Linked DNA regions of Homo sapiens: region 1 is linked to region 2. The links come from fine-mapping of genetic effects on plasma protein levels. A gene starts in region 2. The other region holds a variant in brackets. All regions are shown on one strand. Distances are between the middles of the regions.

The links. PIP is the posterior inclusion probability: the model's chance that the variant is causal. Protein levels are from antibody-based Olink assays in UK Biobank. Linkage for the fine-mapping came from a reference panel and not from the study's own genotypes, which makes the PIPs less certain.
Region 1: its variant is fine-mapped to the plasma level of the SUSD5 protein (UK Biobank, PIP above 0.99).

Annotation. Positions count from the first base shown.
Region 1 is chr3:33,147,256-33,152,635 of GRCh38, reverse strand. It overlaps CRTAP (cartilage associated protein), which reads right to left. Exons shown (of 7, transcript NM_006371.5): 7 at 4,863-5,380. It overlaps SUSD5 (sushi domain containing 5), which reads left to right. Exons shown (of 5, transcript NM_015551.2): 5 at 1-2,593. Among named protein-coding and RNA genes, the nearest start is that of CRTAP, 36 kb to the right of the region's middle. The variant GC/C (reference allele first, on the strand shown) is at 3,114.
Region 2 is chr3:33,215,561-33,220,940 of GRCh38, reverse strand. It overlaps SUSD5 (sushi domain containing 5), which reads left to right and starts at 2,131. Exons shown (of 5, transcript NM_015551.2): 1 at 2,131-2,255. The coding sequence starts at 2,144.

The DNA.
Region 1 (5,380 bases), 68 kb after region 2:
TTTTTCCTCAGCCCTTTGTTTTATAGGCTGAGAAGTGTCTCTGGAGCACCTGGGAGGGCAGGGAGGCTTTGGTGACATCATCACTCATGTCAATGTCTCCTCCACCATCTGCCCTGGAATTGACTACACTAATCCCAGACCTGTGCTTGGGCCCTGTTTCCAGTGTGAGGTCAAAAATCGCCTCTTCCTTCATCACAGTATTATCTTTTTTTTTTTGAGACAGAGTCTCATGCTGTTGCCCAGGCTGGAGTGCAGTGTCCCGATCTGAGCTCACTGCAACCTCTGCCTCCCAAGTTCAAGCAATTCTCCTGCCTCAGCCTCCCAAGTAGGTGGGATTACAGGCATGCACCACCATGCCCAGCTAATTTTTTTATATTTTTAGTAGAGATGGAGTTTCACCATGTTGGCCAGGCTGGTCAAGAACTCCTGACCTCAAGTGATCTGCCCTCCTTAGCCTCCCAAAGTGCTAGGATTCCAGGTGTGAGCCACATCACAGTATTACCTTTTTGAAGAAAGAAAATCACCAGCTTCATGCCCTGAAATTTTATAAATAGTCATGATAAACCAAGTGTATGAGAGCAGTATTATCTAGGACATGGATATTGAATTATTGGGAGAGGAATATGGAAGAATAATGGGTTGTTTCCTTTTAATGTTGTGATGTTGCTGAGGGCAGATGAACCAAGAGCCAGGACACAGTCTAGAAGCTTTGAGGTTTCTTTTTTCATTGTTTCTTGAAATTAGAATTTAAGACTGACATTTTGTTGGGGGAGTTGAGGAGTGAAGAAACACACATCCCCCTCTGTTCCCTCCATTCTGTGGGACAGTCTGTCATTTATTTTATTTTATTTTCAATATTTCATGGTTAAGGATTTGCCATTATTTTTTAAAAACAAAGTTAGCTTTGTACCAGTAAGTACCATTTCCTCTCAGAAGCAGTGGCCTAGTTGTCCTTGACCAGTCTGTGCCTAGGAATGTCTTGGAATTTTTGCCAGGACTAACAAAACTCAGTCCTTGGTTTCCTCTCTCAGGATTAACCATTTCTCTGAACTCCAGTAAGAGAGAATGACACGGGAGAAAAAAAAAAGAAATGTTTTCAGAGGGCCGAACACCAGGTTATCAAGTATGGGCACATACTTGATGGAGAAGCAGAAGAATCTGTGAAAGAATATGAAATGATCTGTGCTGATCTGTTCTCTAGTGTGGAAACTGGGAGCTCTGTGGAAACAGAATCCATCCTGTCTGTTGGGTAACCCATTTCGTAGCATCTAAATCATCTTAGGGTGGCTCAGCGAGGATGGTTTATGGCAGTGGTTCTCAAAGTGTGGTCCTCAGACCAGTAGCATCAGCGTCACCTGGGAATTTGTTGGAGATGCAAATTCTCTAGTCCCACCCTGGACTCAGGAAACAGGAACCCTGGGAGTAGGGCCCAGTTCTGTTTTTAACAAGCCCTCCAGGTGATTTTGATATGCACTCAAGTTTGAGAGCCTGTTGGTTTATAATAATCTCAAATGTGAACTTCGAGGCCAGCTGAAGCCCTAAAGGCACAGATGAGTATGTGGTGTGTGTTGTGTGGAAGTCAGGCATGGCTGTGTGCAGCTGAGGTGGCATTTGAAGCTGCCTAAATGCCACCTGCAATAGTCTCCTGTATGTTGGCACAGAAATGAAACATGTTATATTTTTCTAATATGAATCACCTTCTTAGAAATAGTTATCAGTGGTAAAAAGTGATGAATGCAACACATTTATTTTGAGACACCATAGCAGTCTAAGTGTTTTTGTGTGGTAGAGGGAAATCCTGATCTTTTTTATGATTGAAAAATTGTTGGTGGTGTTTTACCTAAGGAAAAAAAACATTCGCAACATGTTTTCTACCCTGCCACCTCTTTTCAGCAAGCTTTGGAAAAGTAATAGGCGAAGTAGCTGTAAAGAGAGGCAGCATAATCAAAGATCTTATTCCCCATAGTTGGGTAAAATAAAGCCTGAAGGTACCAACTAGAATACCTGTGCATCAGACGAAGTCAAGAACAATAGGAATAAAATGCTTTCTGCATGTAGCCAAAGCAAAACATAATAGAATAAAAGCCAGAGACTGTATATATTTATAAATTAGATCCTAATCTACTGCAAGATAACTTTTCTATTTTTAACTATATAAAATAACCTCTGTCTCAGCATTGGGACTGTGTTAGCAACTATTATTGTGGAATAACCCAGAACATTGGATTTATACCAACAAATAGGCAATATTAATACAGTGTATTAATAAATTTATTACAAATTATTAATACAGTGTATTAATAAATTTATTACAAATTATTAATACAGGTAAATGTTTTATTTGTAGACATGGACTGTGAAATAAACCCAACACATCAGTTTTTAAGTTCTTATTGGTGTGGTATCCTCTAAATTAATGTTATAGAATCTAAAAATTCATGTTGAAAGGGAATGATTAAAACAATGTAAATCTAAATTGTATGTCATGCATGTTTTGAGAATGGTGAATGTTTAATGCTCATGAAAATTGGGGGAGGGGGTTCTATTAACACAAAGCTTCTGAGATATTTAAAATAAATAATTATTGCCCCAACAGTTGCTGAATGTATTTTATTTCTAGGCTACTGCACCAAGGTTTAAAAAAAGAAAAAAATTCTCGCTGGGCACAGTGGCTCACACTGGTAATCCCAGCACTTTGGGAGGCTGAGGTAGGCAGATCACTTGAGGTCATGAGTTCGAGACCAGCCTGGCCAACATGGTGAAATCTTTTCTGTACTAAAAATACAAAAATTAGCCGGGCGTGATAGCATGCTTGTGGTACCAGCTACCCAGGAGGATCAGGCAGGAGAATTGCTTGAACCCGGGAGGCAGAGGTTGCAGTGAGCTGAGATCATGCCACTGCACTCCAGCGTGGGGGACAGAGCAAGGCTCCATTCAAAAAAAAAATCTCTAGTAATCTTGAAAATAATGTCTTAATACTTGCTATATCTAAGATCTAAGACTGCCCTTTCTAAACCTAACTCTCAGTTATGTTACCTCCTGCAGCAGGATTTTAGGGAAGTTGGTGGCACTCTTGCCCCCCCCTCCCTCCCTACTTCCCTCTTCCTTGCCCC[GC/C]CCCCCCCTACTTCCCTCTTCCTTGCCCCAACCAGAGACCACTTACTTCACTGCAACGAAACACCCGGGACCTCGCTATTCAAAGTGTGGCTCCTGCCCCAGCAGCACAGGCACTGCGAGCTTGTTAGAAGTACAGAATCTCAGGCCCTGCCCCAGGACTGCTGAATCAGGATCTGCATCTAACAGGATGCCCAGGTGGTGGGCATGAATGGTAAAGCTTGAGAAGCACTGGCCTAAGAGAGAACTGATTATCCCCTTTCTCCTAACTCACAGGACACTCAAAGGAGTAATTAGAGGGTTAGCTGAAGGGACTGTTCACAAAGGTGTGGGGAAAGTTAGGGGAACCATCAGGGGATGGTGGGGACCTGTTATGGAACCCAACAAGAGCTCAGTAATAGGAAAGGCCCTGCAGGACAAGGGCTCTGGCCTCAAAGAGAATGCAGCCAGTGTCCAACTGTGGCCTGGAGGAAGCAAAGATTTTAAGGAACCAGACCTTGTCTCACCCTGCCATCTCTTGTTGGCATGTCCCAGTGGCAACTGGAAATCAGAGGGTGAAGAAGCCCAGGCAATGGAACCATAGAGGTCAGGCTTCTGGGACACCGGGCATGTTGGAGGGGCATGTTGGAAGAGATACGGAAGGGCAGCTAGCAAATCCAGCTCAGACGCCATCAGCACCAATCCCATCTGCCTTATGTCCATTTTTACATCCATGACCACCACAGATCCATGCCTCCCAAGCCTTCCAATGTTGTGGACATTGTTGATGCCCCTCCCAGGTCCCCTTTGCTAGGTAGGTGAACCTGTCTTCCAGCTGCCCTGAGTGTTGGCTGTTAAAATGCTCATAAGCACGTAAGTGTACCCTTCCAACGCAGAGAATTGCCCTTGGCCTATTGAGAGTTCCCTCACCCAGGAAGTTAGACCACGGTATACTCTGCTAGGGCAGCCTATAACCAATGACCAGCTGTCATGGGAATGCAAAAGGCTGGCCTCCTTTCCTCAAGGTGGGACCAACTCCGATATGATTCATGCTCCAGAGCTCCCATGAGATCAAGCTGAAGTCAGTCTCCAACTGAAGACACATCCTTACTGGCTCCTTCCTGCTTCTCTCACACCCCTTCTCTTGAGAGCACCCCATCACTTCCCTTGCTTCAAAGGATCCTGACCTAAGACATCCATCAACACTCAACTCTTACTCCCTACACCTCCTCTCCTCAGTCCAGATTTTTTCACCATAACCTCTGGAATTCTTGGGCTGACCTCCATGTCCTCCACCTCTTCTTCAGACAGCTGTTTCAACTCTCCATAACGTGGACTTCTTTTTGTGCTGGCTGGTTCCTCACTCTTTCCACCTGCTTCCTTCTACTCTTCTTTCTCCTGCCTGCCCTTTAGTGGCATGCATGGAGCATAGTTGCTGTTGACAGTCATGCCTGAAGATGCTTTGTGTCCCTGTTTGAAACAGATTCCAAATGTTTTTCCTAGTGGGATTCCAGATCTCCTCTGAAAGACAATCTTCCGGGGGAGAGGCATGAGCCTCTACTGCCTGACAGGACCTCAGCCAGCTCTTGGCTCATGGAGAGCAAGGACCACTCCTCTTGCATGAGATCCAGGAGTCCCTGGCTTGAAGTTTCTACTTTGTTAGATGAATGTCAGAAATTTCACAGACCTGAGAAAACAGAGCTCATTACAACATAGCTTCTAGAATGTGGTGAAGACATCCCTGTCCAGTGGATAGAATAGAAAATAGAGAATAAGCAATGTAAAACATTTAATGTGATTTAAAAAGAAAAACAAAAACCTTTTGTTTTCAACTATTTTCTAATTTTCAACAAGAGTGAGCTTGTACATACCACACTAACCCAAAGAGGGGAGGCAGAAAAAGACATCAGCAACGGTCTTTGGAGTTTGGCCTACTGGCTGCCACCCTAAAGTGGGAGATAAAACTCTGGAATCTATCTTGTATCTGTTGGCCAAATTGCTTAATTCCTTCCTATTCTCTTCTTGTAAAATGAGGCACTAATATCTTACCGGCCAGCTCCAAGGGGATATAGAGCCAACTCACTCATTCATTCAACAAGCAACGAAAGCCAGCTATTTGTGTGGGGACAGTGTCAGGTGCAAGGATATGTGGCTGTTCACGAGCCGGCCCTAGACGGAAAACACTCTAAGGATAACAATAGCTGCTCTTGATTCTTATTTCTGGGGTAGCAGTGGGTCAGTCAAGGCAAAGCCGGGCTGTCATGGTGTCCTCTTTCAGGGAGATGTCATG
Region 2 (5,380 bases):
GTTCCTAGGCAAAGCTCCTGAGTGAGTGAGTTGGTAGCTCTTGGCAGGTACCTTCTGATCCCTCCCCTCCGTTCTCAGCACTAACCAGGCTTTAAAATGACCCCTCCAGTCCAGACATGTGAAGTCTCACTCCTTAGGTTACCAGCTAACTGTTAAAAGGGAAGGAGCTGGCCGGGTGTGGTGGCTCATGCCTGTAATCCCAGCACTTTGGGAGGCCGAGGCCGGCGGATCACGAGGTTAAGAGATCGAGACCATCTGGCCAACATGGTGAAACCCCGTCTCTACTAAAAATACAAAAATTAGCTGGGCGTGGTGGTGCACGCCTGTAGTCCCAACTACTCGGGAGGCTGAGGCAGGAGAATCGCTTGAACCTGGGAGGCTGAGGTTACAGTGAGTCAAGATCGCTCCACGGTACTCCAGCCTGGCAACAGAGCGAGACTCTATCTCAAAAAAAAAAAAAAAAAAAAAAAAAAGGGAAGGAGCTAAGTAAATTCATTTATACTTGTCAGGCCTCACTGCATTTAACACCTCACTGCATTAACAGCTACCACGCCCGGCTAATTTTTGTATTTTTGTAAAGATGGAAATTTCACCATGTTGGCCAGGCTGGTCTCCAACTCCTGATCTCAGGTGATTGGTCGGCCTCCGCCTCCCAAAGTGCTTGGATTACAGGCCTGGGCAACCGTGTCCGGCCAGTATTTGTATTTTGAAAGCAAAGTTTAATTATCCAAAATAATTACTCATTAATAGTAGCCCTTGTAGTTGATGGGAAGTAATAAGGAGAGAAGAAATCTTTTCAGTACATTTCAACAATTAATGCAAGCTGAAAAATGACACCTGTAGTAAATCAGATGTGGATTCAAATCCAAGTTCTTACTGTGAAAAGAAAGTAAATTATTTCAATGTCTGTGTCCTGGTTCATTAAATGAGGATAATCATCTGCCCCTTTAGCACCAATCACTTTTTCAATTGTAAGTATATTTTATTTAAGTGTGAACATTTTTAGGACCGATTGCAGCCACATTCAGGGTCTAGCACAGGGACAGGCATGTATGGGCACTCAATAGATGTTTGTTGACCCATACATCAATATAAAAGGGATTTGCAAATTGTAGAGCACCGCGCATGCCTCAGTTATAACAATACTGATCTTTATTACTCTACCTATGAAGAAAGCAAGTTCTTCTTTCACTGAACAGGGCTGGTGGTAGGGAGACAGGCTAGGGGCGAGCAGGAAGAAGGAATCAAGTCAAACAGGGACCCCTGCAGCAGAATCCATTGGGACACTTTAACTTAGAGTGTAGATTCCCAGACCAGACCGACAGAGTCCGAATCTCAGACCCTTTCGAGGTCAAAAAGCCCTGATTTGGGAGGTGGGTGATAATGGTGACAATCTCACTAGCCCTCTTACTGCTCCTTGAGAAATACTAGCGTACCAGGAAAAGTGGTGAAGGAAGCGTTCCTGAAGATATCCTTTCCTCAGTGACTCTCAAACTTCGCTTTTAGGAAAGAGGAATTTCGCTATTCCATGCGTTTCACACCTTAGAGTGAGGGTGGTAGGTAACTTAGATTTTCCTCTCTTCATTAAAAAAAAAAAAAAAAAAGAGTGTTGGTGGGGAGGGGGAGGAGGCCAGTTGAAAAGTAGAGGCCGAGGACAGAGTTAGACACTCGTTGTCTAACGGCCCTGCCGGAGGGGCTCCGCCTGTCAGACTGCGTCACCCTCTCGCCAAGGGTCCCCCAGACGGGCGGGGGCTCCTTGCGGCCGGCTAGCTACTCTCCCCGCCTCCCTGCGCCCTCGCCCTCCGCCCCGCTGTACCCGCAGAGCGCGCGGCCCAGCGCAGCCCCTTTTGGCACCGAGGTTTCCAGGTGCCCAGCGCGAAGGCGGAGCCGGGTTACAGCCGCCTCCTCGGCGCCACAGAGAAGACCCCCGGGAGTTCGGCGGCCCAGGCGCTCCGGCTCTGCGTCCCGAGCCTCCCCCGGCTCTCCGCGCTCCTCCCTCTCGGCGCGCCCGGCGCGAAGCCTGCGATTCGTGAGCCGAGCGCAGAGCGCAGAGCCGAGTGGCGCACGCTGGGCAGTGGCCTGGGCAACCCCAAACGCAGCCAGAGCCCTCACCCGAGTCCGCTGGCCCGCGCACTCCCGGACCATGACTGCCGAGGGACCCAGCCCGCCTGCCCGTTGGCACAGACGCCTCCCCGGGCTCTGGGCGGCGGCGCTGCTCCTGCTCGGTCTGCCGCGCCTTTCGGTGCGGGCGGATGGTGAGTGTGCGGGAGGCGGCGGGGCGGGGGGTGGAGCGTGGGGTCCGGGCAGGGAGGGCGTAGCTCGCCGGGGCTGCTCCCTCTGACCGGCCCGGCAAGCGGCAAGCGCAAGCCTGAGAGGAACGAACGAGCCGCGGTCCTGCGACCCAGCATCCCTCTCCTGGCCCACCAAGTCTCCGCGTGCCCGTGCGCCCAAACGCCCGCCTGGTGCCTGGACCCTCCCTTAGCGCCGAGCGCGTAGGTCCCGCAGTCCCGCCGCTGGCTTTCCTAAGGTCTCCAAGAAAGCTCGAATGAAATCACCTCTAAGGTGCCCTAGAACCTCCTCTGCTAAGGGGTGATTTTCCGCCGTCCCTCAGTTTCTCAACGTCTATTAATGTGCCCCTGAGGACACCGCCGATGGTTAGAAAACTCCCTCGGATATTTTGGCTTGGTCCGGGAAGACGTGAAAGATGAGTGGGAATCAGCGAGGCTAAGAGAGAGAGAATGGCCTGGCCAGAGGGAAAAGCACGTGCAAAGGCTGTCTCTGAGTGACAGGAAAAACGGGACAAATGATAAAGCAAAGTACCTGGAGGCGAGGGGACGTCTTGAGACATGAGGTAGAGAAGTGGGCAAGGGCCAGATTATGGCAGGTTCTCTGAGAATTGATCCACTTCTTGTTCGTTTGCTTGGTTTTTCAGCCTGAATTTAGCTTGTAATACTTGCCCTAAAATGAGCAGGATTGGAGCTCTGTATCCATTCCCTTTTGAAAAGCTAATTCAGCTGTGTTTTCATATTAGAACAAAATCCCGCTGACTTGGTACAGGAGCATCTGAAGGAAGCAAGCTTAAAGCCAGCAGTTCTCACACCCATGAGGTAGTTCTAGCTTAGGACGAATTAGACTGATAAAAGAGAAAAGCCCTCCGTCAATTTAGGATGCGTTGTATATTTTAAAATGTGATTCTTGTTTAGCCAACGATATTGAGTGAAACTAGAAGACATGGGGAAAAAAAAAAAAAGCATGGTTGTCAGGAAAAGGGGAAAGCCAAGGAAAAAACCGTCTAGGTCGTAGAGTTTTTAGTGCTCTCTGTTTTAAGTGCAGGCTTGAAAAGCTCTCCGTTCCTAATTAAGGATGAATGTCGTATTTCTCCATATCCTCAGAGAGAGTGTTAGAGACAAAACATTTTTAACTTTGAAGGCTGTTAGTAACCACTGCTAATTTTTTTAATTGACATGTATTTCACATAAAATTTGTCATTTTAAAATATACAGTTAAGTGGGTTTTAGTATATTCATTAGGTTGTGAAAACCATGGTTTGCATGCATCTAATTCCAGAACATTTCCATCACTCCTCAAAAGAATCCCATACCTATTAGCAGTTTACTGATAATTCTTCACTGTAGTGTTTTTTGACTGACATTGAGCCATGAAAATTAAGCTGATTTTAAAGAATGCAAGTAGAATAAATTGGAGCTAATATTAATCTTTGAACAAGATATATTGTGCCAACTTTAATTCCTTTTAAATAAATATTTTTGCAATCCATAAGGTTTTAGAGTTTCATCCCATTATAACTGTTTAAGTGGAATGCCATGTGGATAAGGATCAATATTTTGTGCCTGTCTAGCTTGATACGGGTCATAGAAAATTAAAGGCAGAAATGTCACTGGTCAAAGAGAAAGTAAGGACAACACCAGAGCACATGATTCTTTGTTACTGCTTGCCAGAAATGATTCCTTTTCTTCATTCTCCTTCCTTTTCTTTCCCCACTTCCTCAGTGGACAATTATAGGTATACTTCCTTATAGTAAACTCAATTTTATGAGCTCCAACTTTTATACTAGAACCAGGAAGAGTTATAAGCTATATTATCAAAGGATTCTTTTTGGTACTAAATTCTTAGCTGCCACCAGTTCCTACATTTAGTTATTTGTGTGCTATGGTGACGGGAGGAAGAAGAAGAAATGCTCAGCTTAAGTATGATGAATTACAGATGTTTGAAGAGATAGATTTGGAGAGAAACTATTTCTAAAAACGTGTCATCTGTATAAGGATGGTCTTTGAAATCATGTGCGTGGGCAGAATCCTAAGGAAAAATTTTACAGCAAGAAGACCTAGAACTGAGCCTGGAGTGAGGGAAGCTGGTTTGGGATTATTGAATCTATGTTTATGAAACATATTAGCCTGTAATTTTCATTTTTTATAATATCTTTGCCAAGTGTTGATATCAAACGTATGATGGTTCCTAAACCAAATTGTAAAGTTGCTCCTTCTTTAACTCTGAAAGGGTTTCTGCGGGTGAGGGCTTTTGTTTGTTTGTTTTGGTGTGAGATCATCTGTGTCTGAAGGTTTTCTTGTAGGAAGATTTTAAATAATGAATTTAATTTGTTTGGTAGATAAAGAAGTATTCAGATTTTAAAATTAATTTTGTGTCAATGTTGCTAAGTTTTATTTTTTAAAGTTTTTCCCCCACTTCATTTAGATTGTCTAATGTGGCATATACAATGTAATAATCTCTAATTATCATTTCAGGGTCCACGGGATCTGTAGTGATGTTCCCTTTCATTCTTGATATTGGTACTTTGTGTTTTCTCTTTTTTTGTCTTGATCAGTCTTAGTAGGGGTTTATCCGTTTTATTATTCATTTGAAAAAAGCAACTTTTGGCTTTATTTTCTTGATTGTGTGTCTGCTTTCCGTTTTACTGATTTCTGCTCTATCTGTATTATTTCCTCCTTCTACGTTAGAAGATTTGATTTTGTGGGACTTTTGTGTTTGTTTTTTGAGCTAGAAACTTAGATCATTGATTCTCAACCATACTTTTTTGGTATTAATAATGTGAGATCTGAGGCTATAAATTTCTCTTAAACTACTTTAGTTTCTCCATAAGTTTTTGGCCCTTGAGTTGACATGTTTTATTTCAGTTGGGATTTCTTCTTTGAACACAGTTTATTTAGAAGTATATTTTGTAATTTCCATGCACAAGGGGATTTTCCTAGTTATTGCTTTGTTATTGAGAGGCAGTATAACCAAGTGATTAAAATCACTAACGGAGCCATACTGCCTGGTTCTGTATCTCTGCTGTGTGATCTCGGACAAGCATTAATACTAAACCTTAACTATAAAATGAGGATGATAATACCACCTATAT